Linked DNA regions of Homo sapiens: regions 1 and 3 are each linked to region 2. The links come from fine-mapping of genetic effects on gene expression. A gene starts in region 2. Each other region holds a variant in brackets. All regions are shown on one strand. Distances are between the middles of the regions. Region 1 overlaps ARHGEF3 (Rho guanine nucleotide exchange factor 3). Region 2 holds the start of ARHGEF3 (Rho guanine nucleotide exchange factor 3). Region 3 has its middle 25 kb from the start of TASOR.

The links. PIP is the estimated chance that this variant, and not a neighbour inherited with it, causes the effect.
Region 1: its variant is fine-mapped to the expression of ARHGEF3 in whole blood (TOPMed, PIP 0.99).
Region 3: its variant is fine-mapped to the expression of ARHGEF3 in blood mononuclear cells (TOPMed, PIP above 0.99).

The regions. Positions count from the first base shown.
Region 1 is chr3:56,748,276-56,758,744 of GRCh38, forward strand. ARHGEF3 (Rho guanine nucleotide exchange factor 3) reads right to left here. Exons shown (of 10, transcript NM_019555.3): 3 at 6,706-6,876; 4 at 5,229-5,291; 5 at 3,025-3,121; 6 at 2,781-2,857. Among named protein-coding and RNA genes, the nearest start is that of ARHGEF3, 48 kb to the right of the region's middle. The variant C/CA (reference allele first, on the strand shown) is at 6,525.
Region 2 is chr3:56,795,510-56,805,978 of GRCh38, forward strand. ARHGEF3 (Rho guanine nucleotide exchange factor 3) reads right to left here and starts at 6,440. Exons shown (of 10, transcript NM_019555.3): 1 at 6,194-6,440. The coding sequence starts at 6,289. RefSeq lists an enhancer at 4,026-4,075 and a silencer at 6,440-6,609.
Region 3 is chr3:56,703,248-56,713,716 of GRCh38, forward strand. No RefSeq gene overlaps it. Among named protein-coding and RNA genes, the nearest start is that of TASOR, 25 kb to the left of the region's middle. The variant G/A (reference allele first, on the strand shown) is at 5,199.

The DNA of each region.
Region 1 (10,469 bases), 47 kb before region 2:
CGCCTCAGGCTCCCAAAGTGCTGGGATTACAGACGTGAGCCACTGTGCTTGGGCCCTAGAATATTTTTATTGAAGAAACTGTCGTTTAGAGAACCAAAGCTACTTGCTCAGCTGGAGACAAAACGAGAGTCTGAAGCTTGTTCTTGCTTCCCCTTTACCCTCAGAGTTCTGAACTATTCACCATCTCTTTATTAAATAGACTATCAAGAATTTATAAGGGAAACTCACTTTTTAAAGAAGTTCTTTTATCCCCCTAATATTGTGAAAAAATCTATTTTTTTTTTTTTTTTTGCTTCCATGTACTCTGGCTCTTTCCTGGGAATTAAAATTTAGTGAGACAACAAATTAACATGAGAACTTTCTGCCTTGGAGAGCTTATAAAGTATTTCATCATTGAAAAAACGTTGGCATAGAGATAAGTCACTTGGGAAGTTGTTTCTTTATGCTAGGGAAGGCTTACTCAAACAGGCTGACCCATTAGGGAGCGGGGACACTGATTCTCAGTAACCGGGGTAGTTCCCTGAAAAAAAGCAACCACTCTGTTTAAGGTCTTCAAAGTAAAAGTAATTGATTCATTCTAAGGTCAAAAGGACTGGCCAGGGCTGTCCCACTTGGAAGGCTCACTTGTTTAAAAGGGTTCCCCCCCACCCCCCTTTTTTCCTTTGCGGAGAAAATAAATCAATTTTTCATGGGTCGAATGGGACTCTTCTCATCCAAAGTCCACTAAGATGTTTATTTTGTTCTGTTAAAAATACAAGAACTCAAACATATGTACCCCTAGGTTTACTGTTCCCACTCAGACGGACACATCTGCAGTTAAAAGAGGAAAAACATTTAACAGCTTGTCAGGCCTGATAAATAAGGGCCATTTCTCACGAAGTCTGGCAACAACGGGCCAGTTGTTTAATTTTAGGCTGCTCTTCAAGATCCAAGTCCTCATTTGATGTCTGAAGCATCCAGATAGCAATGGGCCAGCATGGTCACACTTCCTTTGGGTATGTACAGAAAATGACTGCAAAGCTGCTCCCAGATCAAACCAATTTTCTAATAAACGTGACAAATGTTTATTTCAGCAAAAAGTTACTAACAAGGCAAATTCCTACAATTTTGCTTCTGGCATAAACTGACAATTTGCATATGATGCTTAAGGAAACCATGTAGTCCTGTACTGCTGTCTCATCAAAAGCAGAGGAGTTATCCTACAAATTCTGGAGTGTGGCCTAACTGCTCCATTTACCCCCATATCAAAGCAGTCCACAGACTCAGGAAGTTTAAGAGACACTGAGGCACTCTCTACTCATTATACCTTCTTTGTCTCTGTCTGTCTCCGGTTGGCTGGCTCTCTTTGGAGAAATTTCTTTGTGGGCTAAAGAAGTTAAAACATCTACGATGGCTCATAATAAAATGAAAGTCAAAAATATAAGATGAATGATCTCTCTTGAAATATTAAGGCATATTTTCTAAATTATTCATCTTAGAACATTACTTGCCTTTCGGATACCTTTGGGATATTTCAGCCTTGGTGCTAAAATTGACTCCTGAACTAAAGCTATTTAAGTCATGAAACTCTCATCAAGTATCTTGATCAAGGCAGTCATTGAGAAACGTAAGTTAAAAGATCAATGTTAAAACTTTCTGCACATCTATGTGTTATCAAGGCATGTTAACTGAAAGGTTTTAGGAAGATTAAAATGCAGATGTAACGGAATAAAGAGAACTCACATAGCAACAGTAGGATTTATAACCTTCACAACACTCTCCAAACAGTGAAATAATCTCTAATATTAGCTGTTGTGGTACTTCCTGCCTATTTTTCTGGAATACTGTGAGCAACAGAGTGATGAGAGACCTAATCTTGCCTGGAATAAGTCAGCAAAGTAATCTCCTCTCATTATCTGCTTTATAACAAATGAAAAACACCTGGAACTGGGGTGGACCATTCAAGCACTCACAGAAGGAAACATAAATGTGTAGAATAGGGAGCGGTGGGGACTGAGGCAAAATAAGAGCACACGCCTTGTCTAGCGTAAGTGAAACAAACAACTTTAAGTACACAATAAAACACAAATCCAGCCCCAGGATCATAAATTTATGACTCCTAATCTAAGATCACAGCTTACTTCTTTTTATTTAATTAGGAAAAGGAATGGATTATATTAGGATGAAGGTCACCATATACCCAGCTCTCCTATAAATTACTTAGCATGGTATATATGCTAAACATTAGCAACCTTTACTTATTATCTTGTTTATAAAACTACATTTTGACCATGAGATTTTTTTTATGGCCTAAAAAGTTTTTTTTAATATGCTAAACATTAGCAACCTTTACTTATGATCTTGTTTATAAAACTGCATTTTGACCATGAGAATTTTTTTTTAATAGCATGACAAGTTTTTTTTTTTTTTTTTTGGTAGTGGATATATGTCAATAAATTTTTATTGGAGTATATTATGTTAGCGATTGGCCTGACGGAATATTAACTAGTTTTATTTTGATACGAAACTAGTAATAGTTTCATGTGTACCTTTACTTATTTTGTTCCAAAAGGCCCTGTTACTTTTAAATGCAATAAATTTGTAATAAGAAAAAAACTATTTTCATGCTTTAAAGATACAAAACTTAAATTTAATTAAAATTTTACTAGGATTTTTTTTTCTGATGTGAAACCAACATTTGTAAAAAAATAAAAATAAAAATAAAAAAAGTCTAGCTAAAATGAAACTCCCATCTATATTATTGAAATTTATCTTCAATAAAGACCAGAGAACTTTCTTACCCAGCCCACGAGGATGGGACCAACATGTTCAGTCGAGCCATCAGGCTTCCTAACATCTCGAAGCTGACTAAGGAGCTCTGGCAAAAAACAAACAGATGCTTATTTGTTAGGCATTCAAATATGAACAGGGCTGGAAGTAGGTTCTGGGTTATTCACATTGCAGGCAATTAATAATCACTCACTCATTATAAGACAACTCAGTTAAGGCTACAAGTCACGACTCATCCTGGGAACAAAATTATACCTTCATGTAGAGGAATTAGAGAGTCCAGTGTTCCAAAAATTTGATTCAACTCTTGTTCTGTCATTATGGAGAGTTTCAGCATGGGGTCATGATAGGCCTGCACAAAAACGGCAAGAGATGGAAGCACATGTTTAAAATCAGAGGAAGTACATTGTTCATGTAAGTGGCTCCTGAGAGGTCCTATCCAATAACAAAACTTCTGGCTCTCTAACAACTTCTCCCATAAAGCTGCAGAAACAGCAGAGAGGTGTGGCTGGAGGAGAGGAGAAACCAGCACTGCCTTAAGCCTTTGTGGTTGATAAACCAAAGCAGATTTTTCAAAAGCTTTTTTATTCTAGTATGTCATATATCTAGGAAAGAGCACAAATCCTAGGTATAGAACAGATTTGACTGTTAAAATGTTTTCAAAATCAAGATCCTGCCTCTTAAAAAAATCCCACTTTATTCAAAACTAGCTACTAGCAGATTCTTTTTTCAATTAGTACATATTTAAAATAAAGAAAAAGAGGAAAGAAACAGTGATTGGTATCCTTTACTACTGATTTGAACAAAGAGAGCAAAGGTGATAATCCTATCACCTCTTACTAGAGAAAATTAAACAACAAGAATACACAGTTATACCCAGGGCACTAAAATAGAACACAAAGACTTAAAAGTCTCCTACCTTCAAGGAATTTTATAAAGCTAATGGGGAAGATAAGAAAAACTAAAATATTTTCTAGTTTATATTTTAGTTTCTGATCTCATGGAAAACTAAATCTATGTTTAAAAAATATTTTTTTCTTTTTTTTTTTGTACTTTTTAGTAGAGACAGGGTTTCACCATGTTGGCCAGGATGGTCTTGATCTCTTGACCTCGTGATCTGCCCGCCTCGGCCTCCCAAAGTGCTGGGATTACAGGCGTGAGCCACAGCACCCAGCCTAATTTTTGTATTTTTTAGTAGAGACAGGGTTTCACCATGTTGGCCAGGCTGGTCTTGAACTCCTGACCTCAAGTGATCCTTCTGCCTCAGCTTCCCAAAGTGTCGGGATTATAGGTGTGAGCCACCGGACCCGGCTTATGTTTAAAAATTAAAGATTAAAAACCAGACTGATGTCACAAGACAGCAAAAAGCCATCAAATCAAAACTGCTCTAGAAGGTCAGAGAATTAAAGCTGGAGTGGCCAAGGGAAGTTTTGAAGATAAGCTGCTTGGTACAGAGAAGGAGGCAATAAATGTTATGTAAGAATAAACTGAGATTTGAGCTGGTTCCTGAAGGATGGGTGGATATGAATGGTTGAAACGAAAGAGAAAAGTTTCTAGGAAGGTAGGGCCACCATAAGCAAAAGGATGGCTGGGAAACACCTGAAGGTGCTTGAGTTTGGCAAATCTTGATGCAGGAAAGGGGAGTTAGACACCAGCATGATAACTCTCAGAGTGAAATAACTTCTTTGTCCTCTCTGATCTCCTCCTCCTCCAGCTCTGCCTAAAACTCAGTTTCTTGGCTGTGTCCAAGCAAAGCTTGGGTGGCCATCTCTCAGGAATGCTAGAGGTGGAATTTCATCTTAGCAGAAAGACTAAAAACCCTTAAAAGAAGGGATGTAGCCTTCCAACCCTGTGATTCTTCGAGGAGGCTGTGAATATCAGATGAAGGAGTCTGGATTTTAGCCTCCAAGCCATGGAGTTGGGGGGCTGTGCCACTGGAACGAAAATGTTTTTGAGGAAGGTTTGTTGTCCTCCTCCTCCCCACACAAAATGTTGATTAGAAAACAAATTCCTATATAAAAGACCCCAACTTATATGATAGTATGCAATTGCCTCATTTCACTTTATTCACTTTTGAGATTCAAATGGCTTTATTTCTAAGACTCAGTTCAAGTTTCAGACATGCACACATTCTCTCCTATGGGCAAAGAGTCCTACATATGAGACTTCTAGGACAATGAAATATACATAAGGCGAGGCCTCCATGGACACTTTCTGATTTAGGCTGAAGTATTCTTTGACATGCATTAGAGACATACAGAGGTAAACCCCTAAAGGTGCCAGGTCTGGAGAGCTATTCTGCCCTCTTGTTTTGAAACACTTTCCCCACTGCTTGGTGTGTGGTAGCAGACCAGTCTTAGTCATAAAGACAGTTCTCACGAAGCACCACTTTAGGGTTGTGAAATTACTCAAGAAAAAAAATGTGACTTGACTCAAGTGACTGCTGGATTTAAATTTACCTTTTTTGCTAATTTCAAGTCTTCTATCAAGTCTTCTTCTCCTTGGGAAAGCTCAAAGATCGCCTGCAAGGAAAGATAAACATATTCACTGAATTCTCCCTTCATTTACAAGACCATATTCAAATAGTGCTGGCTCCACCACTCAAAACCCCAAATTTACATATTTAAGTATTTTAAGTTACGTTAACCTGAAGCAAATGCATCTATGCTTAAACCTGCAATGAAAAGATATTGCAAAACTGCTGCATATTGTGCTTCTCTGTTTGTGGGAGAAAGTTTCTACACATTTCTAGTCCAAAAAGTCATCTTTCATGTTACAGAACTTTGATGCAGCTGAACAAGAGGGAACTATTTTAGGTAAAATAATTACAGTGTGAGCCATGGATTTGGTACCCTTGTTGTGAGAGGCCATCATAAGAAGTGATTCAGAGGCTCTTCTAGATAATGGATGTGGCAGTATTATTAACTGGGCCATCCCCACTTTTTCTTCTACTCGACAGAAGGCGAATCTCAGCAGAAAGTTTTATTTGTATTATCCACTGCCTTGAGGCTGAGATTGTAGGAAGAATCCAACATTTTATCACTCCAAATACAACCTGGTGAAGTTAATTCATTCTAAACCACTTCTCAGCCCCACAGGTACAACAAATAAAATTATAGGCGCTGGCTGTGTGGAAGAGTAGGTAAATGGACCGTTTCTAATTTGGCTCTATTAAGCCATCATGCTAAAGAGCTATGATGCACAGAACACTCTTTCACTTCCATCTGGGAAGTCAAACTGTCAGCAAACATTACATTATTAAAGGAGTACAAGTTTGTAACGATATTTCAGGGTCTACTGTGTTTCAGGATATAGGGAAACAGTGGTCAGGCTTTGAAAGCTCCCTCCACCTGGGGCTGCTTGGTAAACTGAGGACAAAGCAGGTGGAGGCACAACCCTGAGCTGGATACTCCAAGGATCTCATCAGATGATGCACACATGAAGTGCTCAGCACAGCCTGGCACAAGCACTTAAACAAGCTCTTCTATACAGGGTAATATTATCAGAGTCATTTAGGGCAACTGATACAGAAAACTTACCGGGAATGAAATTAACTGGATTCTATAGAAAGGAAGTTTTCCATGAAGCTGAATCAAAGCTATGTAAACTAAATATTTTAAAATAGTCTATAAGTTGCTAACAAAATATAACTAAAATGATTATTTTTGTGAACTTCAGAATCCTAAATAGACACTTGGTTTCATCTTCTTGTAAATTCATATTTTCACATCAGTTTCTTTTTAAAGTGGGGGCCA[C/CA]ACCCTCCCAGCTGGTTTCTGGTTTCTCAGTTCCTTCCCCAAGGTCAGACACTCTTGTTTATCCTTCTGCAAACGCAATGAAGAATTGATTTGGAGACTAAGGCGCAAATTCCAGCATGGCTGACGCTGCAATGCACCTTTGTTCCAGACACACAGCCAGCTCCATGGGCCCCGAGCCTACCTCCTGACGTTTGATTTCCTTGGATGTAAGCATCTGATTGACGCACACATCGAAGGTCTCACTCCACAGCTTGCTATCTCTCCGTTTCGTGCTCGAGGGGGCGGCATTTCTGGACCAGGGTCGGGGGGCGAGGATGTCAGGGCGGCTCTCACTGCGGAAGCTAATGGAGCGCTAAACAATGAGAAAAACAAACCATCACGGGGGCAGCGGCAGGACTGGGTGGATCTTTGAGCAGTTTCCTGTCGTTGACGGAACATAAATCATATATGTGAAAGAAAAAGAGGACATTGCCACAAGGCCTTTGGGAAGTGGGGCATTGTCTTGAGCCTACGTGCTAAGGAAAATTGGACAGGGGGCTGCTTTGGAACATGTGCTGGGAGTATCTGTTCTGTGTGACCTGGATACCAAGTGGACTATAGTGCAAGCACATATCAGGCCAAACTCACGCATGAAGGCAGTTCTTGGATACGTGATGAGCTCTACTTTTTTCCAGTGGACATCTCCCCTCTTTAAAAGAACCAGAGATAACAATAGTGGATGGCCTTTATTTATTCAAACATTTGGCCAGTACTCCTACTCTCCTCCTTCTATAAATAGAATCCCACTAACTTTGGGTATCCTATTACATATAGTTTTGGTGGGCACCCCCAGACCTGACCAATAGAGTATTCCACCATCCTAGTTCAGGGATGGGCATGTGATTCCCTGAAATTTGTCACATGAGTTACGGGAGAAAGGAGGAAAGAGTATTCCTTTGGGATTGTGAGTTCAAGAGAGAACACAAGCAGGGCCTTCCAGCAGCAACTCTCCCTAGTTACACAGAAGCATCTGTCTGCTACAGGAGAGAATAAAGAGACCCAGAATGAAGGATGGAGTGACCAATGGAGGCAGGAAGGGAGCAAGCTTTACCAATACTGCTTGAGCCTCTGGATCCCACTGTGCCTGAAACCAGAAAGAACCACCCTTAGACATTTTCATTACATATAGAAAGACATTTCCCTTTCTATTATCTCAGTTGGGGTTCTGTCAACTTGAAAAGTCCTGACTAATACACATACTAAATACCATCTTTGCAGCACATGATTCCTGTCCCTGAGGTATTTTCCTATTTCCCAAAGAGGCCGCAGAAGTCCACCTGTGTGACTTAAACATGCTACCAAAATGCTTTTCATGACAAATACAAATGATCCAGAAGAAAGCTGAGTGCATCATTTTCAGTCTTCATCCTAGAAGATTTCATCACACTTATTGGAGACTTTGCCAAAGCAATGAGGTTGCTGTGCTCCAAAACCACATTGTTATTTAGGAAGTGTTCCCTGCCATGGCTCTCTGTGGCCTTCAGCAGGAAGTTTCAACTCCTCATCTTGGCACAGGAAGTCTCTTGTAATCTGACCACAGTCTCCATATTTAGGATCCCATCCTGCCACTCATCCATGAGCCTCCATTTCTCCAACCATACTAGGCTATCTGTCATTCCCTAAATATGTCATGCTTTGCCATCCCTCTGTACTCCCTTCAAACAATCTTCTCTTCCTGGAATGTGTTTCCATCACTTCATAGCTGGCTTTTTTTTTTTTTTTTTTTTTTGAGACAGAGTCTTGCTCTGTCGCCCAGGCTGGAGTACAGTGGTGCGATCTCGGCTCACTGCAAGCCCCGCCTCCTGGGTTCACGCCACTCTCTTGCTTCAGCCTCCTGAGTAGCTGGGCCTACAGGCGCCCGCCACCACGCCCGGCTAATTTTTTGTATTTTCAGTAGAGACAGGGTTTCACCATGTTAGCCAGGATGCTCTCGATTTCCTGACCTCGTGATCCGCCCGCCTCGGCCTCCCGAAGTGCTGGAATTACAGGCATGAGCCACTGTGTCCGGCCATAGCTGGCTAACTCTTAACTGCCCTCGGGATGTAACTCAAACAGCACCTCCTCTAAGAAGTCTTCACCAACATTCTCCCATCCTCCTCCCCCAGAGCAATTCAGACATACTTCTGATATAGCAATGATCATACTTGATTATAATTATTGGTCACCTGCTCTTAACTAGAAACTTCCTGAGGTCAGGAATTGAATTTGCTTATGACATATGAGCCTTCATCACAAAGGCATTCTAAGGTAGTTCCCAGTTATTTTGAGATTCAACAATAAAATTCCAGAAAGTAAAGAAAAATTTTAAAAGGAACTATTCAACATAAGGGCATTGTTAAATAAGTTGTAAGTGGCTGGGCACAGTGGCTCACGCCTGTAATCCCAGCACTTTGGGAAGCCGAGGTGGGTGGGTCACCTGAGGTCAGCAGTTTGACACCAGCCTGGCCAACATGGTGAAACCCCGTCTCTACTAAAAGTACAAAAATTAGCCGGGGCGTGGTGGCATGTGCCTGTAATCCCAGCTACTCAGGAGGCTGAGGCAGGAGAATCGCTTGAACCCAGGAGGCGGAGATTGCAGTGAGCCAAGATCGTGCCACTGCACTCCAGTCTGGGCGACAAGAGTGAGACTCCGTCTCAGAAAAAAAAAAAAGTTATAATTACCTGCTGGATGGAATATTATCTAGACAATTCAGAGATAATTTAAAATGTAAACACCCCTTCTATGTAGCCTAAAATAAAATCAGGATTAAAAATCTATATGTGAACATTTTATAGTTATGCAAAAAATGCACATGAGCAAAGATATAAAGGGAACATCACAAAATTCTATTGTTGTTTCATGTTGACATTATGAGTGATTTCTGTCCTCCTTTATATATTTTTAGCCTTTTTTTTTTGTTTTGAGATGGAGTCTTGCTCTGTCGCCCAGGCTGGTGTGCAGTGGCGCAGTCTCAGCTCACTGCAAGCTCCGCCTCCCGGGTTCACACCATTCTCCTGCCTCAGCCTCCCAAGTAGCTGGGACTACAGGCACCTGCCACCACGCCCGGCTAATTTTTTGTATTTTTAGAAAAGACGGGGTTTCACTGTGTTAGCCAGGGTGGTCTCCATCTCCTGACCTCGTGATCCGCCCGCCTCGGCCTCCCAAAGTGTCTAAAATGGCCGGGCGTGGTGGCTCACGCCTGTAATCCCAGCACTTTGGGAGGCTGAGGCGGGCGGATCACCTGAGGTCAGGAGTTCAAGACCAGCCTGAACAACATGGTGAAACCCTGTCTTTATTAAAAATACAAAAAAAATTAGCTGGACGTGATGGTAGGTGCCTGTAATCCCAGCTACTTGGGAAGCTGAGGCAGAAGAATTGCTTGAACCCGTGAAGTGGAGATTGTAGTAAGCTGAGATTGCGCCACTGTACTCCAGCCTGGGCGACAGAGCAAGACTCCCTCTAAAGGAAAAAAAAAAAAATAGAAAATGAGGCGGGGCTTGGTGGCTCATGTCTGTAATCCCAGTTCTTCGGGAAGCCAAGGCAGGCGGATGGCTTGAGCTGAGGAGTTCGAGACCACTCTGGGCAACGTAGCAAGACCTCATTTCAGTTCTAAATTAAAAAAATATATATAGATATATATGTAAGAATAAATGAAAAATGTAAAAAGAAACTTCCAAAGAGCTTCAGGGTATTACCACAACCTTCTGGAAGCAGGACGCTCACTCTGCAAGTAGCAACACAAGCCCCTTAGGCTGGCACAAGTAGTGGGGGTGCTCCTGGGCTCACTAATGAGCTCATGATGGCTGGACCAGCCCTATGCAGGTCAAGAAAGTACTTGCACCAAATACACAGTTCACTAATGGTATCTTACAAATCCTTGTGATCTCTTAAAAACAGTCCCTTGTAAACAGTAACCAGGAACTAAA
Region 2 (10,469 bases):
GGGCTACCTTCTCTCAAAAGGACACAATGGTCCAAACAGAAAGTCCGGGCACAAGTGTTTCTAGACTTAAAAAGAGCCACTCCTTTCCCAGCCAGTAGAAGGTTTGGAAACCTTTCCTGATTAACTTGTGACACAGTCTCTCTCTCTTTTTTTTTTTTGAAGATGGACTCTTGCTCTGTTGCTCAGACTGGAGTGGCGCTCGGCTCACTGCAATCTCTGCCTCCCAGGTTCAAGTGATTCTCCTGCCTCACCCTCCTGAGTAGCTTGGATTACAGGTGTGTGCCACCACGCCTGGCTAATTTTTGAATTTTTAGTAGAGATGGGGTTTCACCGTTGGTCAGGCTGGTCTTGAACCCCTGACCTCGTGATCCGACCACCTCAGCCTCCAAGTGCTAGGACTACAGGCGTGAGCCACCACACTGGGCATGACACAGCCTCTTCTAAACTAGTTATTGGTGTCAACTAATTAAAAAAAAAAAAAGGAAGGCAATAGAAACCACTGGCTTTCACTCCTGACAGTCCATGAGCCAACATAAGAATAAATGGCAACGCAGTCACGGCAATTTCCTCATTTTGTGTGACCTCTACCCATTATCAAGGCTGACAAATTATGGAAGGCAACTGCACACATACATGACAAAGTAGCCCTTCCAGATACACACATCATCAATAACAATTACATTTACACAGGGCTTTGCAAAATTAGGTTGTGATCAGTAATTTATTTTCTTTCAGTAGTTATGAAAACGGTGGCATCTGTCCAGGATTTTTACGGGCAATCACAGGGTGTCTCGAGAAAATGACACAATTTGCAAATATCCAGATGGTATTTGGGCCTTCCAGTGATTGGTTTACACAGAAGGCTTGTGGTTAATATAGATAAGCAAAATGACTAACAGAACTGACGGTGGCACCTCCACACAGCTAAGCATGCAGAATTCTGCCAAAGACCAGCTCCTTGGTCTTGAGAAACACAAAATGAAAATTACTAAAACCCTCCCAAATGGGGGCTTGCAAATCCCACTCCCGTGGGTTGCAGCCGTTCTATGAAGTGGGCTGCCAGAAGTATTGACTAATGGTGGGGTTTCCTACCCAGACACTCAGGAAAAAAATGGGCCTTTGAGCATCAGGCAATTTTTTGGGCAGGTGGGTTCATCCTTCACGTGTTATGAGGTGAGAAGACCAATGATTTAGTCACTTAGAGGCAATGTGATGTGGTTGGAAAAGTACAGACTTCAGGGTCAACTGGGATTTTAGTCTCATCTCCTTGACCCAGCATTAAAGCCATCCTGGGAAAGCCACTACCCTGTTCTGAGCCTGTTTCTTCTTCTACAAAACAGGGCATTAATACCAACCTCATAGGATTACTGTGATGATGAAAGGACTTACGGTAAAGCCCCTAATGCACTGCTGTGTGTAAAACAACATTCAGGAAATTAGGCTGGTGATCATCATGTTTCTTAAAACCATTTTAAGAATCTTTTTTTTTGAAATGTAAAGGTCTTAATAATAATGACATTTTTTGAGCACTTACGACATGCTAGGCACTATGGTTAGCGCTGTATATGAAACATCTCGTTTGACCCTCACTATGGTCCTAGGAGTTAGAGCTCTCATCATCTCCATTTTACCATTGAGGAAACAGGTTTGGAGAGGCACAGTAGCTTGTCCAAGGTCACATCAACTAGCAGGTGGTGGAGACAGCATTGAGACTCAGGCAGTCTTATTCTAGTCAATGCCCTTGAACAGCATTAAATGTACACATGTAAAGTCAACATATTTTCCTCTTCTGTTGCTAGTTCATGTGCATTCTTAAGGACCAAGATTCCCAAAATAATTTTCCAACTGAACAGCCTCGGAATGATGGCTCAATGACCATAACCAGATCCTATAGCAAGTGATGGCCTTTTTCTGGGTAGCTCCGTGTGGCTTCCCATCCAGCAAGATCTCTGAGGTCATATGATTCCTGGAGTCTATTTAATCATCTGAAGAAATTACAGGATTCTAACTGCAATAACTCCTTATGACTAGTTTCATGTGTGTTCAGGTATACTATCTGTTCAATACAATAAGATACAGATTCCAAGAAATGTATAGATTACTAGAAACCAGTAACCCTCTGGCTTTTCAGCTGGCATTCAAGAAGTACAGCCCGAGGTGCATACAATTTTAAAATGCACATGTTGACTGATAGAGGCATAAATCGTGGCAGGAGCATAGGGTTCACCTTGCCCTTTAGAAGTGGGCCTTAAAGGATACCTTCTCAGTTATGTAAGGTGCTCAAGGTTATACTTAAAAGATAATATTTTAAAGTATTTTGCATGTCTGTTAAGTTTTGTACTACCACCCCACCTTTTATCCCACAAAGGTAAACACCCTTAGGTGCTACAAGGGATGCTGATATTAAATGCTGGACGGAATCCATCAGGAAATTTGACATTGGATCTTGGCTTAGCTGCTGATTTTCTTTGCAGCTTTCTGCAAATCGCTTCCCCTCAGTGTCCTTATTCATAAAGTGGAGAGAACAGTACAAGCTTTATGTTAACCTTATTACAAGTGTGGGGTCTCAAGTGAGACACTAGACATGGTAGACATAGAAAAGGAGCAGAGCTCTGTCATTTCTAGGTGCATGTCATTATTCTCAGGGTCATGCAAGGCTACTGGCTAAGTCAAAATAAGAACCTATACTTTGGAGACCCAGGGCAGTATTCAGCTATTCATGAGATAGGCCTATGGTCTATGGCACTACAAATTTTTAAAACTGCTGAGAGTCAAAAGCAATGGCTACAAATACCATTAACTAAATCAGGCCTAATCTGACCAATATCTAAGATGGTAAATTTTAAAACTGAAAGTAAGTTGTCCACCAAGTTGTCAGATATATTCTTACAAAAATAACAGAAACACCTCTTTGTATTTTGATTAAAAATGAACTGGACCTAAAACTCTTAAAAGCTTCTCACAAGGCTCTAGCTTCCTTAGCCAATGTGTGCACCTTACCTGAGCTTGCTTCCTTTTCTTTACTTCGTTTTTTTTTTTTTTTTTTTTTAAGCCTTCTTTTTAAAAAGCAAACCTCACTACGGGGAAATATTGATTTTTAACTTACAATCAGGATAATTCATTAGAGGTAACACATTTTCTTTTAGTGATTTGATCAGGTGTTTAGCGCAGCTATGTAGACCAGTCCCTTTTGGCATGGGAAGTAGATGACCAATAAATACAAAAACAGATAAACTGAACAAAGCTGCATCAAAGATCAGAAGAAATAAACTTAATGCTCGTATCATATCACATTTTTCTGTGAAATTCTAGAGCCATGAACTAAGCTCCTTAGATTTCACAATTAATGATTACAGCCAGCAGGACCTCACTGATTATGGATATTAAAATTAAACATTTGCCAACCAATTCAAACCCCCATGTCATAAGAAATAGCAGATTAAGAGGCAGTATTATACTAACAGACATGCAATATTATAATCCCTGTAGAATATTTTCAAAAGCTTAAAATAGATCTTTTAAAGAAAATAAAAATACATTTTAAAAATATCATTTTTTGCTTTCACTGGAAACTACCACAAATAAAAAATTACAAATCACTTAAATCTTGAGTAGAAATTTTATTTGCTTTTAAGAGAATGCTTATTTTTGCATATTTTTTTACTCAGTGTACGGTATCAAATGCACATCAATGCCACTTGCCTGTTCCCCAGGAGCCTTTTCCTAAGTGATTTTCCCCAGTACACTTGCTGCAAGGATAGGAGTCAATGCTAGAAGGCACTTCCCAGTGCCATGCTGTGTGCACTGTCCTACCCAAGGCAAATTCGGAAGGAACAGCCATTACACACGGCCATTAAATGTTTAAAGGGCACAGGTGCTCTGTTGCAACGGCCTTTGAAGGTCAACAAGTCCTGTTTTCCTAGAAAGGCCTCTGGATAGATCTATTTTTCTTTTTATTATAACCACATTCTTTCCACAAAGAAAACAATCACTCTTAAAAAAATACTTTCAGAGGAATTAACAGTCAATGCCTAGCTTATAAACAATTATATAATCATGTTTTTCAAAAGGCTGACAAGCGAATGCTATTTTTTAATTTATGAATACTGACGACACCTACTGGTGGAAAATATATTTTAGTTAACTGCTTATGGAGAAGCTAGGCCTACAAGGGTTGGCTGCCTTTTGCGCTGATAAGGAAACCAGAAAACTACCCACTAAACTCACTTAGGTTTCTTTTTCCAATTTTGCCAATTTCCATTATCAGGAAGTGATATGCTCATCGATGAAGCTAAAAGATATCTCTGCCTCAAAGTGTATAAAGCATACTTGATTTAGTGTTTAAATCAAACACTAAAAAACAAAAACCCCAATAGTGATATCTGAAAAATATTTACCAACTATTTCCAAAACTATTCCAACCCCTTCCTTATTTCTCACATCAGGATATCCCCATACGAGGAAAATAAGTCATATTTTATAGTCTAGATCCAGCTACCAATGAAGAAAATTAATATTTGACATGTGATAAGTTTCATATTTGTGATATATAGACATATCTATATTCTATGTATAAGAATAAAATGAAATTAAGCAGGCAAGTTTTACCTAAGCCTTTAGCTAAACTACTCAAAAACACAGGACTAAGTAATAGTAGGAAGGGACTGGTTAGAGTCCTCAGCTATCCTCACTATTCTTTTCTTTGGCCCACTTCAATTTATTAATTTATTGGTTATGCCTTTCTTCCTTACAAGTGGAGTTTGAGTGGGCACCAATTGCGCTGCTCCTATGTTGATTAAATTAGGAAGTTCCCACTGAAAAAATATTATATCCATTCCAGGCCTGACCAACCTGAATTCTATGCAAATGCCACTAGGGCCATCACACTTTCACAGCTGCTGGCAACAAAAACTCTTTGTGATAATATTCGACTGAGCTGGAGTGTAGGGTTGGGTTTGAGTGAGGGAGAAGTTAGTTTGTGCTCAGCGTATAGAAAGCTGAATACAACCAGAGACTGCTTGGAGTCCTGTCAGCCTGGAGCAGCTCTTGCTAGAGGAAATGAATCTTTGATGGTGTGCTCCCGAATATACATGATTCAGTGAGCCAAGTGCATACAGCTGAGCAGACCCAAGGAAGGCGAGTGGGTGGAACCTCAAGAATGCTGTGACAAGGCCGGATGCACACCTGCCTTCAGCCTTTCCCCAGTGGTGGTGGTGATGTTTGATGTTCGCAGAGTGAGGTGTGGGAGAGTGGAAAGCTCCCAGATACACGCATGAGCGGCAATGACTAGCTGGGTCCTGTGGGTTCCACCGCAGCTTGACCACAGCAAAGCTGTAATCTAGCGAAAGCGACTGTATTCCCTAAGACCCTCAAAGAGAGGGATGCTTTCTCCTCCAGCTGAACCCAACCTTTAAGGCCAGTGAGCTATGTGCCAGAGAAATAACACGCAAGAGGAAAAGGCAGACTAAACATAACCTGGGAGCACTCCTTCACATCGCCCGCAAGGCACAGGAAAGTTCCCAGAAAGAGAAATGTTTCCAATGTTCCAAGGCAGCTTTCCATTGACCCTAAGGACTTTAATTCATTTTCAAGATCCATGTGGGAGACACTCCAATTTACTCATTTAGCCCCAGCCCCCCGGCTGAATGACCCTCACTGGCCACAGGTGATAGGCAGAGGCGCTGTGTCCTGTTTTTGCTGCCAAAGGGCTGCAAGGCCAAGTCTGACAGGTGAGAGGGCTGGTACGTCCCTCTGCTCTCACAACCCAGGCAAAAAAAACTCGCTTAAAGGGTAGCGACACTGGGGCTTGCTGACACTTCCCTGACACTGGGGCTTGCTGACAGTAGGAGAAAGTCCCTCTGAGAGTCCAGACAGAAGATGGACAGTCTGAGAGCCCTGCAAAGGCAAGGAGGCAGTTGCTCCCAGACCGGCAGGTAGAGGGACAGGGAGAGAGGAGGCAGCTAGTGCTTGGTCCACAGAGAAAAAGCGAGAGAAAAGGAGACAGGGTGAGAGATGGCGACGGGGAGACACAAAGAAGACTGTGGGAGAGATGTAGAGAGAGAAAGTGGCACACACGGAGAGTGAGAGATGGAAACAGAGACAGTGACACTGGACGGGCGCCGAGAATGGGAGATGGAGGCAGACGAGACAGGCAGATGACCCATAGAGGTCCAGGTGCAGGGCGCGGCCCTACCTCAGCGTCCTTGGCCGGACCGCTGGCCGGGGGTAGCTCCAGGCTGCAGTTCGCTCTCTTGACCGTGAGGTAGAAGGGGTAATCCTTGGCCACCATGGCGGCTGCCGGGCCTGCCCTTTGGGATGTCACCGCTGACCCTAGGCGACTACAAAACTCCCAGGCAAAAGGGGGCCCCAGCTCCACGATGCCGGGCGGCGGCGGCGACACGGAGACCGACAGCCGGCTTCTAGCCGGGCAGGACTCGACTGGGCTCCGGAGCCGAGTGGGCGGGACCGTGCCAGCCACGCCTTGATGGGTGGGGAGGGGGCGGGCCGCCGGCTCGGCACCGCCCCACGCTGCCGGGAGGGCCCACGTGCCGCAGCGCGGACACCTCCTGGGGCTGCGAGGGGCGTGGGGCGGTCCCGCGGGTGGAGAGGGACCTCTCTCTCCCCGCTGGTATTCGACTCCGGGCGCCCCCGCAGAGCGTGGGCCGCGATTGCGGGGCAGGCAGACCCCATGATAGCTCCTTTCGGGCTCTTTGGCACTCTCCGGGTGAAAGGCTGCTGGTAGAAAGGAGGCTGGGGCGAAACCGGGCAACGGGGAGAAAGGAGGCTGTAGTGACACCTGGAGGCAGGAAGGAGCCTGGGGGGAAAAGCGAGCGTTTTAAAAGCCCACATTAGAAAGGGGTGGTGTTCTCTCTTACCCTGTTCCCAGGCCACTGCACGTTTTTTTTGTTTTGTTTTGTTTTTGTTTGGTTTTTTAAATGAATGTCAGTGGAATATAATCTACAAATGGCAAAATGCACCCATTTTAAGAGTACCGTTTGTTGAGTTCTGACAAATGTAAACACCCGTATAACCACCTCCACAGTCGGTATACGAAACATTTCCACCACCCCCGGAAAATTCCCTCGAGACCTTTCCCACTTTGCACCAACTTTTAAATTTGACTAGCATATTCAGAGGCTGCCTGACACTCGAGGGCAATCTGACAGAGTGTCCTTCAAGTATAAAGCTGTGCATGGATGACCTGGCACTACCACACCTTTCTGGATCCTTTTTGGAGAAACAATGACATTATAAATGCCCAAGAAGGCGATTGATCTTAAGGTTGTTTGCAGCAGCCCTGTCTGGGGCAGTAAAAAATAAAAAATAACTGGAAACAATGGTAATATATCCATCAATAGGGAGTGCTTAAATAAACTTTCTTCACTGTGTAATACCGCTTAGCAGCAGTGAAAAAGGAGATGGGTCTATGGGTGTGGCATGGAAAGATCTCCAATGTATTAGACTCAGTTTAAAAATAATTGCAGACTAAGCATAATACAATACCATTTGTGTTAAAAAAAAATACAAGTTTACCAAAGAATATCATATATTTTCTATAAAGACATATTTGTGGGTAAATAGCATTGAACACTGTCTACAAGAATCCACAGCAAGCTTTTACCAGTTCCCCTGTGGCTGAAGGGAGGCACCTGGGTTTAAAGAATTAAAGATAGTGAACAAAAGGGACTTAAGCTTATAGCTCATGTTTTAAAATTTTTTATAAGAAAAATACAGCCTGGGCAGCAGTGAAACCCTGTGTCTACAAAAAAAATACAAAAAATTAGCCAGGGATGGTGGTGCACACCTGTAATCCCAACTACTCCAGAGGCTGAGGTGGGAGGATCACTTGAGCCTGGGAGGCAGAAGTTGCAGTGAGCCAAGATCATACCACTGCACTCCAGCCTGGGTGACAGAGACCCTGAGAAAAAATAAAAAAGAAAAGAAAAAAAGAAAGAAATAGAGGAAGGAAGAAAGGAAAAAGAAAAGAAAAGAAAAGAAAAAAGAAAAGATGGCTAGGTAGAGTGGCTCACACCTGTAATCCCAACACTTTGGAAGGCCAAGGCAGCAGTGTGGCTTGAGGCCAACAGTTCAAGACCAGCCTAAGCAACATAGCAAGACCCTGCCTCTACAAAAAAATTTAAAAATTAGCCAGGTATGGTAGTGCATGCCTGTAGTCTCAGCTAATCCCGAGGTTGAGGTGGGAGGATTCCTGAGCCCAAGAGTTCAAGGCTGTGGTGAGCTATGGTTGCACCACTGCACTCTAGCCTGGTGACAGAGTGAGACCCTGTCTCAAGAGAAAAAAAGAAAAATACCTTCATTCATGGCACTTCTTGGGAAATTATAGTTTTTTAAAATATTATAATTATCATATTTTCTTTCTTTTTTTTTTTTTTGAGATAGGGTCTTGCTTTGTTGCCCAGGCTGGAGTGTAGTGGCATGATCTTGGCTCACTGCAACCTTCTCCTCCTGGGCTCAAGTGATCTTTCCACCTCAGCCTCCCAAGTAGCTGGGACTACAGGCCTGGACCAGTGTGCCCAGCTAATTTTTGTATTTTTGTAGAGACAGGGTTTTGCCATGTTTGCCCAGGCTGGTCTCCAACCCCTGAGCTCAAGCAATCCACCTGCCTCAACCACCCAAAGTGCTGGGATTACAGGTGTAAGCCACCATGCCCAGCCCTAAAATGATCATCTCTCAAAAGTTATTTTGTAGACTGTACTGTTGAATCTTTTTCCTCCTCATGTGGAAAGTCATGACTACATCAGGTGGTGATCTATGGAGACACTATCTTTTGTTTTTACTTCCTGGGGATGCAGGGGATAGTGGGAATGGTGATATCCAGTCCCTGTTTGCGTGCTCTTTGCTTCTAGCTGAGGTCAGAACCCAGCAGTTCCTACTTCTCAGGCAGGACACCTCATAATACATAGCTCTTCATCCCAGGTATCAAATCCACACCCTCACACTAAATCCACTTACTTTCCTACCCAGCTAGTGCAGACAAACTGCCTTTGGAGGCAGAAAGAATTGGGCCCTGTGTAACCAGCCTGTTATTACCACACATGTAAATGAAGCTCCTGAATGGGTGGAGGTTCCAACTGAAATTGAAGAGAGCACCTGAGTTTTTTTCCCTCGATAGATAACCTGAAGCAATAGGAAGAAAACTGTCTCAGAAGAGGTATGGGGCAGGAAAGAGCACCTCAGAACCACTGATTTTTCCTATTTGTATTCCTGAACACAATTTTATCCTTTTAGCCTGAGCTGTGCTGATGGGGAGCTCACACAAGTGCTCCAAAAGCTTAGCCAAGCTTGGTGGGGGTGTGAGAGTAACCTCATCTCCAAGTAGCCCCTGATTAACTATGCAGCCAAAGGCAGGGCCAGAGGCAGTGACATGCGTCACTCAGGGCTTGTCTGGCCACCAAGAACCTGTGCCCAAGTACCCGAGCCACTTCTTATTCCTCTTTCTCTGCCTGCTCTTCTGGCCCTCACAGTCCACTATCTCAACTAGAACACATTTGCCATCAAAGCCACTGGCTTTGACTCCCAGAAGAGCTTGCTGGGCCGTGTTCTCAAGTTGGAAAATATACTTACAGCACTTGGTGAAGAAAATAGTCACCCTGGCGACGTCTGATAGCCCTGGGACTGGGTTGCTCATTGCAGTATCCTTAGGGCCAAGCAGGGAGTCTGACATACCATAAATCCAGTGTAACAGTAAACAAACCCTAAGAAATATGTTTATTTTATTTTTTTGAGACAGGTCTCACTTTGTTGCCCAGGCTGGAGTGCAGTGGCACAATCTTGGCTCACTGCAGCCTCAACCTCCTGGTCTCAAGCAATCCTCCCGCCTCAGCCCCTCAAGTAGCTGGGACTACAGGCACACGTCACCACGCCCAGCTAATTTTTATATTTTTTGTAGAGATGAGGTTTCACCATGTTGCTCAGGCTGGTCTTGAATTCCTGAGCTCAAGTGATCCACCCACCTCGGCCTCCCAAAGCGCTAGGATTACAAGCATAAGCCACTGTGCCTGGCCTCCGAAGAAATGTTAAAGTGCAACTTAGGTTGAAGCACAACTATTGCAGAGCAATGAACAGTCATATTGATTGATGAGAAGGCTGCCGTATCCATCTTCTCTTAAAACATTTCTTTGCTTTCCTTAAAATATACTGGAGCCATAAAAATCAATAAATACACAGGGCTACACAACATATATATGACAAACATACCTCTTTTCCACTATACATGCTAGGCAAAGAGAGACAGACAGAGGCAGAGAGATTACTAATGGCCTGTAACAATTTAAATAGTGCTATAAAAAAGCATAAGCTACAAAAGGAAAGATGGGAATCTGGAATTCTCTTGGGTGGTCTGATTCTTCCAAGCTTCTTATAGCACGAATGTCTCACCATCCAGAATAGGATTCTGGTGTTTAAATACAGATATTTTTGGTACAACAAAGCCTATAAACTCAAGCCAG
Region 3 (10,469 bases), 92 kb before region 2:
CACATACTCACATATTTTATAGTTGTTTATATAAGCATGTGTATATATATTTATAATAACAGTTACAACATATATATGTTGTAACTATGGGTCTGAGTTTTCTCATCTGTAAAACTGAGATAATAATTGCACCAGCAGGGCGCAGAGGCTCACACCTGTAATCCTGGCACTTTGGGAGGCTGAGGTGGGTGGATCACGAGGTCAGGAGTTCGAGACCAGCCTGGCCAATATGGTGAACCCCCATCTCTACTAAAAAATAAAAAAAATTAGCTGGGCGGGGTGGCAGGCACCTGTAGTCCCAGCTACTCGGGAGGCTGAGGCAGGAGAATTGCTGGAACCAGTGAGGTGGAGGTTGCAGTGAGCAGAGATCGCCGCACTGTACTCCAGCCTGGGCAACAGAGCAAGACTCCATGTTGAGAAAAAAAATGGCACCTAGGCCAGCCACCTGCAGTGGCTCACACCTGCAATCTTGGCGCTTTGGGAGGCCAAAGGGGGAGAATCCTTTGAGGTCAGGAGTTGAAGACCAACCTGGGCAACAAAGCAAGACCCCACCTCTACAAAAAAATTAAAAACTAGCTGGGCATGGAGGTGCATGCCTGTAGTTCTAGCTACTCGGGAGGCTGAGGCAGGAGGATTGCTTGAGCCCAGGAGTTCAAGGCTAGAGTGAGCTATGATCACGTCACTGTACCACACACTGTATAATAGGGCAAGACAGTGTCTCAAAACAAAATAATAATGATTGCACCTACATCTTAAGAGGTTGTTGCACAGATTAAGCGTAATGTAAAATGACTGGAACACTGTTAGGTGTGGTTTTTGTTGTTGTTGTTGTTGTTTTGTTTTTTTGTTTTTGTTTTTTTTTGAGATGGAGTCTCGCTCTGTCGCCTAGGCTGGAGTGCAGTGGTGTGATCTCGGCTCACTGCAAGCTCCGCCTTCTCGGTTCATGCCATTCTCCTGCCTCAGCCTCCCGAGTAGCTGGGACTACAGGCACCCGCCACCACACCTGGCTAATTTTTTGTATTTTTAGTAGAGATGGGGTTTCATCGTGTTAGCCAGGATGTTCTCGATCTCCTGACCTCGTGATCCGCCCACCTCGGCCTCCCAAAGTGCTGGGATTACAGCTGTGAGCCACCGCGCCCAGTCACTGTTAGCTGTTTTTTAAAAAAATTGTAAAATACATATAACAGAAAATTTACCATCTCAACCTTTTTTTTTTTTTTTTTTTTTTTTTTTTCAGATGGAGTCTCACTCTGTCGCCCAGGCTCCTAGGCTGGAGTGCAGTGGTGCAGTCTAGGCTCACTGCAACCTCTGCCTCCCGGGTTCAAGTGATTCTCTGGCTGGCTAATTTTTGTATTTTTTACAGAGGCATGTTCACCATGTTGGCCAGGCTGGTCTCAAACTCCTGAGCTCAGGTGATATGTCCACCTTGGCCTCCCAAAGTGCTGGAATTACAGGCGTGAGGCACTGCACCTGGCCTCAACCATTTTAAGTGTACAGTCTACATAAGCAGAATATATATGGGAGAAAAAAGCATACAGTCCAATAGTGTTAAGCATATTCACACTGTTGTACAAATAATCTCCTATCCCCTTTTCATATTGCAAAACTGAAACTCTATACCAATTAAAGAACAGCTCGCCATTTCCCTCTCCCCGCAGTACTTGCTAACCATCACTCTACTTCCTGTCTTTATAAATTTGACTACTCTAAGTACCTCATAGAAATGGAATCATATAGTATTTGTCTTTTTGTGATTGGCTTGTTTCACTTAGCATAACATCCTCAAGGTTCATCTATGTTTTATCATATGTCAGGATTTCTTTTTAAGGCCGAATAATATTCCATTGTATGTACACAGAGCTGTTACATTTTAAAACAGAAATTTAAAAAATGACTTTGAGACTCCTGCTTCCAATTATACTGATCCCCCCATAAACAACTAGAAAACTGGCCAAAATACTCTAAACAACTATATTCAGAAATCAGACAATAGGCAGTGTGGATTGTAATCCCTAAAAGAAAGGAAACAAAAAGGTAAACCCTAAAACCACACCGGAATTTTGTCTGAAGGCAATTTCCAGGTTGTGGATGCGGGGAGGGGAATGCAAGTGAAGCTGAGCAATCTCTCCGAGATTTGGGGAGCAGAAGGTAACTGAAAGTTGCCAGGCAAAATTCTAGAGAATTGGAAGCTTTGTAGAAAAAGAGTTTCAGAAGACCGCATAGGAAGTCCCCTTGACTATGCATGTGTGGAGTAAAACCTTCATGAGGCTGAGAAAATAAAGACTTGGAATTGTAAACTGAATTACACTCAGTGTTCAAACTGAGTGGGGAGAAGTGAGAACTTCAATTAGCCAAGGTCCTGAATAACCAATGGAAAGTCTTCAATAATTAACTGAGCCATGTGACAAATATTCAGGGGGATCATGCTTAGACGGAATAATCCTGGAGTAAAGGCTAATCTATATCTGCCATAGCAAAAATTAAAATAGGCCTTAAAAGTATCAAACTGGGCTGGGTGTGGTGGCTCACGCCTGTAATCCCAGCACTTTGGGAGGCCGAGGCAGGCGGATTACCTGAGGTTAGGAGTTCAAGACCAGCCTGACCAACATGGTGAAACCCTGTCTCTACTAAAAATACAAAAATTAGCTGGGTGTAGTGGCACATGCCAGTAATCCCAGTTATTCGGGAGGCTGAGGCAGGAGAATTGCTTGAGCCCGGGAGACAGAAGTTGCAGTGAGCCAAGATCGTGCCACTGCACTCCAGCCTGGCTGACAGAGTGAGACTCTGCCTCAAAAAAAAAAAAAAAAAAAAAAGAAGGTATCAAAATAATCTATAATTAGCTTACCTGCCTGCCATAACAAAGCCTGATCTTCTCTTCCTCTCTTCTCTTCTCTTCCTTTGTTTCCAGCTATGATTGCACCACTGGAGTATGGTGGTGCAATCATGGCCCACTGCAGCCTCGACCTCCTGTGCTCAAGTGATCCTCCTGGCCTCCCAAAGTGCTGGGATTATAGGCATAAACCACCACGGCTGGACTAATATTCTTCTTCTTTTTTATCAAGGTGCTCAACAAAAGTAAACTGGCCTAATATCCTTAAAATAACAACAACAGCAACAAAATTCAGATGCTTACAATGTCCAGCATCCAATAAAATATTACTAAACATGCCAAGAAGCCAGAAAGTGCTAGCTTATAACCAAGAGAAAATCAATCAATGAAAACAGACAAAAATGATACGGATGCTGGAACTAGCAGATAGAAATATTAAAATAACTATTATTACAGTGTAAACACAGTTAAGTGAAAATATGAACATCATAAGCAAAGAAATGAAACTACAAAAGAGTAACACATGGAATATCCAAAGATTAAAATATAGTATCAGAATGAAAATGGAAGTTTCTCTGGAGGTATTAAGATTAGAAACTGCTAAAACATAAATAGTAAACTTGAGAACCTGGCAATAGAATCTGTTTTTAAAAATGAAGCACAAATGTTAAAAATATTTTTTAACCAAATGAACAGAGCCTCACTGACTTCTGGAAAAATATGGAGTGGTCTAACATATTCATAATTGGAGTCTCATAAGGAAGGATACTACAAAAAAACTATTTTAATAAATATTGGCTTATAGTTTTCAAATTTTATGGAAATCACAGACACAGAAACCCAAGACATTCATTGAATGCCAAGTAGGATAAACATTCTCACACATACAAACCTCACCAAGGCATGTCATAATTAAAATCACTAAAAAACCAATGATTAAGATACAATCTTAAATGCAGGCTCCTCTCAACCCCAAATACACATTACATACAGAAGAACAAAGATAAGAATTATTCACAGGCTTCTGGTAGAAACTGCAAACCAGAAGACAATGAAGTAATATCTTTAAAGTGCTCAGAGAAAAAAATATTGTAGATTAAAATTCTATTTTCAGTGAAAATACTGTTTAAAAATTAAAACAAGATTAAAGATTTTTCAAACAAAAGCCGAGAAGTTTATTGTTAGTATATATCTCCAATATAAAAAATGTTCAAAGAAAGTTCTTCAGGCTGAAATAAAATAATACCAAATGGAAACTTTTTTCTATACAAATGAAATAAGAGTACTAGAAAGGTAAATATAGCCGGGGGCGGTGGCTCATACCTGTAATCCCAGCACTTTGGGAGGCCAAGGTGGGTGGATCACCTGAGGTCAGGAGTTTGAGACCAGCCTGACCAACATGGAGAAACCCTGTCTCTACTAAAAATACAAAATTAGCCGGGCGTGGTGGCACATGCCAGTAATCCCAGCTACTCGGGAAGCTGAGGCAGGAGAATCACTTGAACCTGTGAGGTGGAGGTTGCAGTGAGCCGAGATGGCGCCATTGCACTTCGGCTTGGGCAACAAGAGTGAAACTCCATCTCAAAAAAAAAAAAAAAAAAGAAAAGGTAAATATTGGCACAGATATAACAATTTTTTCTAATTGTTTTATTTCTTTAAAAGATAAATATGTCTATCTATCTCTATTATGTTAAAATAATAATAAAATTTGGAGCTTAAAACATGAGAAGACACATGTGTAACAACACTACCACAGAGAAGGGGGTGAAGGAAATGGAAGTATATTGGTGTAAGATTCTACGTTATACATGAAAGGTATGATACTATTATTATTATTATTATTATTTTTGAGACGGAGTCTCACTCGGTTGCCCAGGCTGGAGTGCAGTGGCGCGATCTCAGCTCACTGCAACCTCTGCCTCCTGGGTTCAAGCAGTTCCCTGCCTCCTGGGTTCAAGCAGTTCCCTGCCTCAGCCTCCGGAGTAGCTGGGATTACAGGTGCCTGCCACCACTTCCGGCTAATGTTTGTATTTTTAGAAGAGACGGGGTTTCACCATATTGTCCAGGTTGCTCTTAAACTCTGGACCTCATGATCCACCCGCCTTGGCCTCCCAAAGTGCTGGCATCACAGGCATAAACTACCGCGCGTGGCCGGTATGATATTATTTGAAGGTAGATGGTGATAATTTAAAGAACAAACACTAAACAAACAAACAAAAAACCAAAAAAGACCAAAGAGAATAACTACTAAAGGGGAGACAAATACAGTATTAGAAAATATTTAATCTGGTCAGGTGCTGTGGCTCACGCCTGTAATCCCAGCACTTTGGGAGGCCGAGGCGGGCAGATCACTTGAGGTCAGGAGTTC[G/A]AGACCAGCTGGGCAACATGGCGAAACCCTGTCTCTACTAAAAATATAAAAAATAGCCGGGCGTGGTGGCACGTGCCTGTAATCCCAGCTACTTGGGAGGCAGAGGCATGAGAATTGCTTGAACCCGGGAGGCAGAGGTTCCCTTGCCACTGCACTCCAGCCTGGGTGACAGAACGAGACTTTGTCTCAAAAAAAAAAAAAAAAAAGTAATTAATCCAAAAAAAGTTGGTAAAGAGAGAAAGTGGAATCTAAAACAAATGGAACATACAGAAAACAACTAACAAGATGGCAGACTTAAAATGAATTATATTATTAATTACATTAAACATAAAGGGTATAAAGCTTCCAATTGAAAGAGACTGTCAGGCTAGATTAGAAAAAAAAAAAGCAAGAGGCTGGGCGTGGTGGCTCATGCCTGTAATCCCAGCACTTTGGGAGGCTAAGGTGGGTGGATCACAAGGTCAGGAGACTGAGACCATCCTGGCCAACACGGTGAAACCCTGTCTCTACTAAAAATACAAAAATTAGCTGGGCCTGGTGGCATGTGCCTGTAATCCCAGCAACTCGGAGGCTGAGGCAGGAGAATCTCTTGAGCCAGGGAGTCAGAGGTTGCAGTGAACCAAGATCATGCCACTACACTCCAGCCTGGCGACAGAGCAAGACTCTGTCGCAAAAAAAAAAAAAAAAAAAAAAAAAAAGCAAGACTCATATATATGCTGTCCACAATAAATCTATTTAAATATATATTAGTCCGGGCGTGGTGGCTCAAGCCTGTAATCCCAGCACTTTGGGAGGCCAAGGCAGGCAGATCACTTGAGGTCGGGAGTTCGAGACCAGCCTGGCCAACATGGTAAAACCCCATCTCTACTAAAAATACAAAAAATTAGCTGAGCATGGTGGCAGGTGCCTGTAATCCCAGTTATTTGGGAGGCTGAGGCAGGAGAATCGCTTGAACCCAGGAGGTGGAAGTTGCAGTGAGCTGAGATTGGGCCATTGCACTCCAGCTGGGGTGATAGAGTGAGACTCTGTCTCAAAAAAAAAAGTATACACACACACACACACACACACACACACAGATTAAAATATATAAGATGACAAAATATATACCATATATGCTACAAGTCAAAAGAAAGCTAGAGTGGTTATGCCAATATAAAGAGACTTTATAATGAGGAGTATTACTAGAGCTAAGGGAGAAACATTTCATAACCATGAAGGGGTAATTTCATCAAGAAGATAAAACAGTCCTGAATGTGTTGGTATCCAATAACAAATCTTCAAAATACATATCCCAAAACTGATAGAATTTAAAGGAGAAATAGACAAATCCAAACTTACAGTTGGAAATTTTAGTACTTCTCTAATTAATATAAAAGGTAGACAGAAAATCAAGGCCAGGTGTGGTGGCTCACACCTGTAATCCTAGCTTTTTGGGAGGCTGAGAAAGGAGTTGGAGACCAGCCTGGACAATATAGTGAGACCCTGTCTGAAAAAGCAAACAAATGGCTGGGCTCGGTGGCTCACACCTGTAATCTCAGCACTTTAGGAGGCCGAGGTGGGGGGATCACCTGAGGTCAGGAGTTCAAGACCAGCCTGGCCAACATGGTGAAACCCTGTCTCTATAAAAATACAAAAATTAGCTGGGCGTGATGGTGGGTGCCTGTAATCCCAGCTGCTTGGGAGGCTGAGGCAGGAGAATCACTTGAACCTGGGAGGCAGAGGTTGCAGTGAGCCGAGATCACACCATTGCACTCCAGCCTAGGCGACAGAGTGAGACTCTGTCTCAAAAAAAACAAAAACAAAAACAAACAAACAAAAAAACACCAAGAAATTAGCCAGGCATGGTTCCAGTATTTGCCATTCCTTTTCCACATTGTACCTGGGTCATCTTTTCACTGACATTTTAATTGAGATAACTGCAAAGTTGTAATAAATAATACAAAGAGATCCTGTGAACCCTTTACCTTCTTCCCCCCAGTGGTAACCATTTTTCAGAACTACAGTAGAGCATCACAAGCAGAATACTGACATTGATAAAATCTGACAATCTTATTTAGATGTCCACATTTGAACTTGCACACATTTGTCTGTGTATAACAATGCTGGATTTAAAAAAAAAAAAATCTTACAGGTCCCTGGGGACTCTGCTCATATATATATATATATATATATATATATATATTTAACTGTATTTTATCTTTTTTTTTTTTTTGAGACAGGGTCTCACTCTGTCACCAGGACTGAAGTGTAGTGGCATGATCTTGGCTCACTGCAACGTCTGCCTCCTGGGCTCAAGTGATCCTCCCACCTCAGCCTCCCCAGTAGCTGGAACTACAGGCAGGTGCCACCACACCCAGCAATTTTTTTTTTATATGTTTTTGTAGAGACAGGGTTTTGCCATGTTGCCCAGGCTGATCTTGAACTCCTGAGCTTAAGCAATGCATCCACCTCGGCCTCCCAAAGTTCTGGGATTACAGCGTGAGCCACCTCACCCATCATTATTTGTTAATATTTAAGTGTGTTTTATGGTTCAGATAAATTCTATTTATCTGTCTTCGAATTCCCTGATTCTTTTGTCTGTCATCTTCACTTTACTATAGAGCCCATTCAAAGAAGTATTTTAAAATTTTTCTGCGCTTGTATTTTTAAGTTCTATATTTTCCATTCAGTACATTTTAATATAAGATCTATTTATTTGCTGAGACTTCCTGAAGAGAACTTGTAATGACTTTTGAAGCATTTTTATGATAGCTGGTTTAGAATCCTGTCAGATAATGCCAGTATTTGACTTATTTTTTTGTTGGCATCAATTGATGATCTTTTCTCATTCAAGTTGTAATTTTCCTGGTTTTTGGCATGATGGGTGATTTTTTATTATATTCTAGACATTTTTCTATTACATTAGGAGCATATTACTTAAATCTTTTAACTGGCAGTTACCTTGTTTAGGTTTAGTGTGCAGGTCCTGGGCTAATTTTATGGGCTGTGGTTCCAATGACATTTTTCAGAGCGCTTTCAGTGTTATTTTGGTCTGCTTGGTTTATCTGATGCTGCTGAGGCTCCCACTGGTCCTTATTGGTGCTGCTGGAGGGAACAGAGGTTCCCCAGGCTAGACCACCAGGTGTCTCTCAGTTGGGGAGATGAGACTCAGAGCCTTGAGGATGAAGATGTCTCCCTGGCTGGGTGCTTGGCAGGATCCCCTTTGCTTGTGAGGGACAAAGACTGCTTCCTGGGCCCGGTGCTTGCTGTGGTGGGACCTTGCCATCTCTGGGTGGGGGAGAGGAGTCTCAGGCCAATGGGAACACAGAGGCTTCCTGGGCTGAGCCACTTGTGGCAGGGTCCCTCTTGCAGGTACCACCTGGTTATCTTGGTATCTCTCAGTGGGGAAGGAGACTATTTCCCATGGCACTTGTTAGCAGGACTCCCAACCAATCCCCATCTCTGGTGGTGCTGGCCTCACCTGGTGGTATTGGAAGGCTCCTGTTGGATCTGGGAAAATGAGCCTACCAGGGCTGTCTTCTATTGCTGCTTCAAGAAATGCTGGGCCTGGGTCAGTGTCTTCTGTTGGGTGGAGAGTAAGATACCCTGCCACTGTGTTGTTTCTCTAGTTCCAGGGTCTCAAACCAGTTTGCCTTCCTATTCTTAGCCTTCAGAATTCTTCTTTGGTCGCCTTTTGAGTTATTTCTAGGGTTTATAGTTGTACTTAGTGAAGAGGAACAGGGAGGAATGAGTCTACATCATCTTATCTGGACCAGAAGTTTGGTTTATTTTTATTTTTTATTTTTTTTTAGAGACACAGCCTCGCTCTGTTGCCCAGGCTAGAGTGCAGTGGCATGATCCTAGCTCATCGCAGCCTCAAACTCGTAACCTCAAGTGATTCTCCCACTTCAGCCTCCCGAATAGCTGAAACTAATAGGCATGCACTACCATGTGTGGCTAATGTATCATTTTAAGTAGAGATGAGATCTCATAACTTTGCCCAGGCTGGTCTAGAACTCCTAGCCTCAAGTGATCCTTCCACCTCAGCCTCCCAAAGTACTGGGATTGTAGCCATGAGCCACCATGCCCAGTCCTGGTTTATTTTTATTTATTTTATTTTTTGAGACGGAGTCTCGCTTTGTCGCCCAGGCTGGAGTGCAACAGCACGATCTTGGTTCACTGCAACCTCCGCCTCTCAGGTTCAAGCAATTCTCCTGCCTCAGCCTCCTGAGAAACTGGGACTACAAGTGCACGCCGCCACGCCAGCTAATTTTTTGTATTTTAGTAGAGACCGGGTTTCACTAGGTTGCCCAGGCTGGTTGTGAACTCCTGAGGTCAGGCAATTCACCTTCCTCGGCCTCCCAAAGTGCTGGGATTACAGGCATGAGCCACCGAGCTCAGCCTATTTTTATTCATTTTTAATTGTAGTTTAAAAAACCCACATAAAAATTAGCTAGGCGTGGGGGCACATGCCTGTAGTCCCAACTACTCAGGCGGCTGAGGCAGGAGAATAGCTTGAACCCAGGAGGCAGAGGTTGCAGTGAGCCGAGATCGCACCACTGCACTCCAGCCTGGGCGACAGAGTGAGACTCCATCTCAAAAGAAATAAGTAAAAACCCCACATAATATTTACCACCTTAACTGGCTTCAAGTGTACAGTAGTGTTAAATATATTCACATTATTGTACAATAAAGCTCCAGAACTTTCTTATTTTGCAAAGCTAAAACTCTTATCTCCATTAAACAAAAACTCCTTATGTTCTCCTCCACCCAGCCCCTGGCAACCACCATTCTATTTTGTTTTTATGAATTTTATTACTTTAGATACATCATGTAAGTGGAATCATACAGTGTTTGTCTTTTTGTGACTGGCTTATCTCACCTAGCATAATGTCCTCAAGGCTCAACCATGCTGTAGCATGTATCATAATTTTCTTCCTTTTTAAAGCTGACTAATATTCTGTTTTGTGTATTTACTATAGTTTGTTTATCCATTAATCCATTGATACTAGGGTTGCTTCCATGTCTTGGCCATTGTGAATAATGTTGAAACAAACACTGGTGTGCAAATATCTTTTCAAGATCCTGCTTTCAATTCTTTTGGGTGTATACCCAGCATTGGGCTTGCTGAATCACATGGTAATTCTGTTTTTCGTTTTTTGAGGAACTGCCGTACTGCTTTCCATAGCAGTGGCACCATTTTACATTCCCACTGAAGTACAATTTTTCCACATCTTTGCTAACTTATTATCTGTTTTTTTACAGTAGCCACTGATGGGTGTGAGATAATAT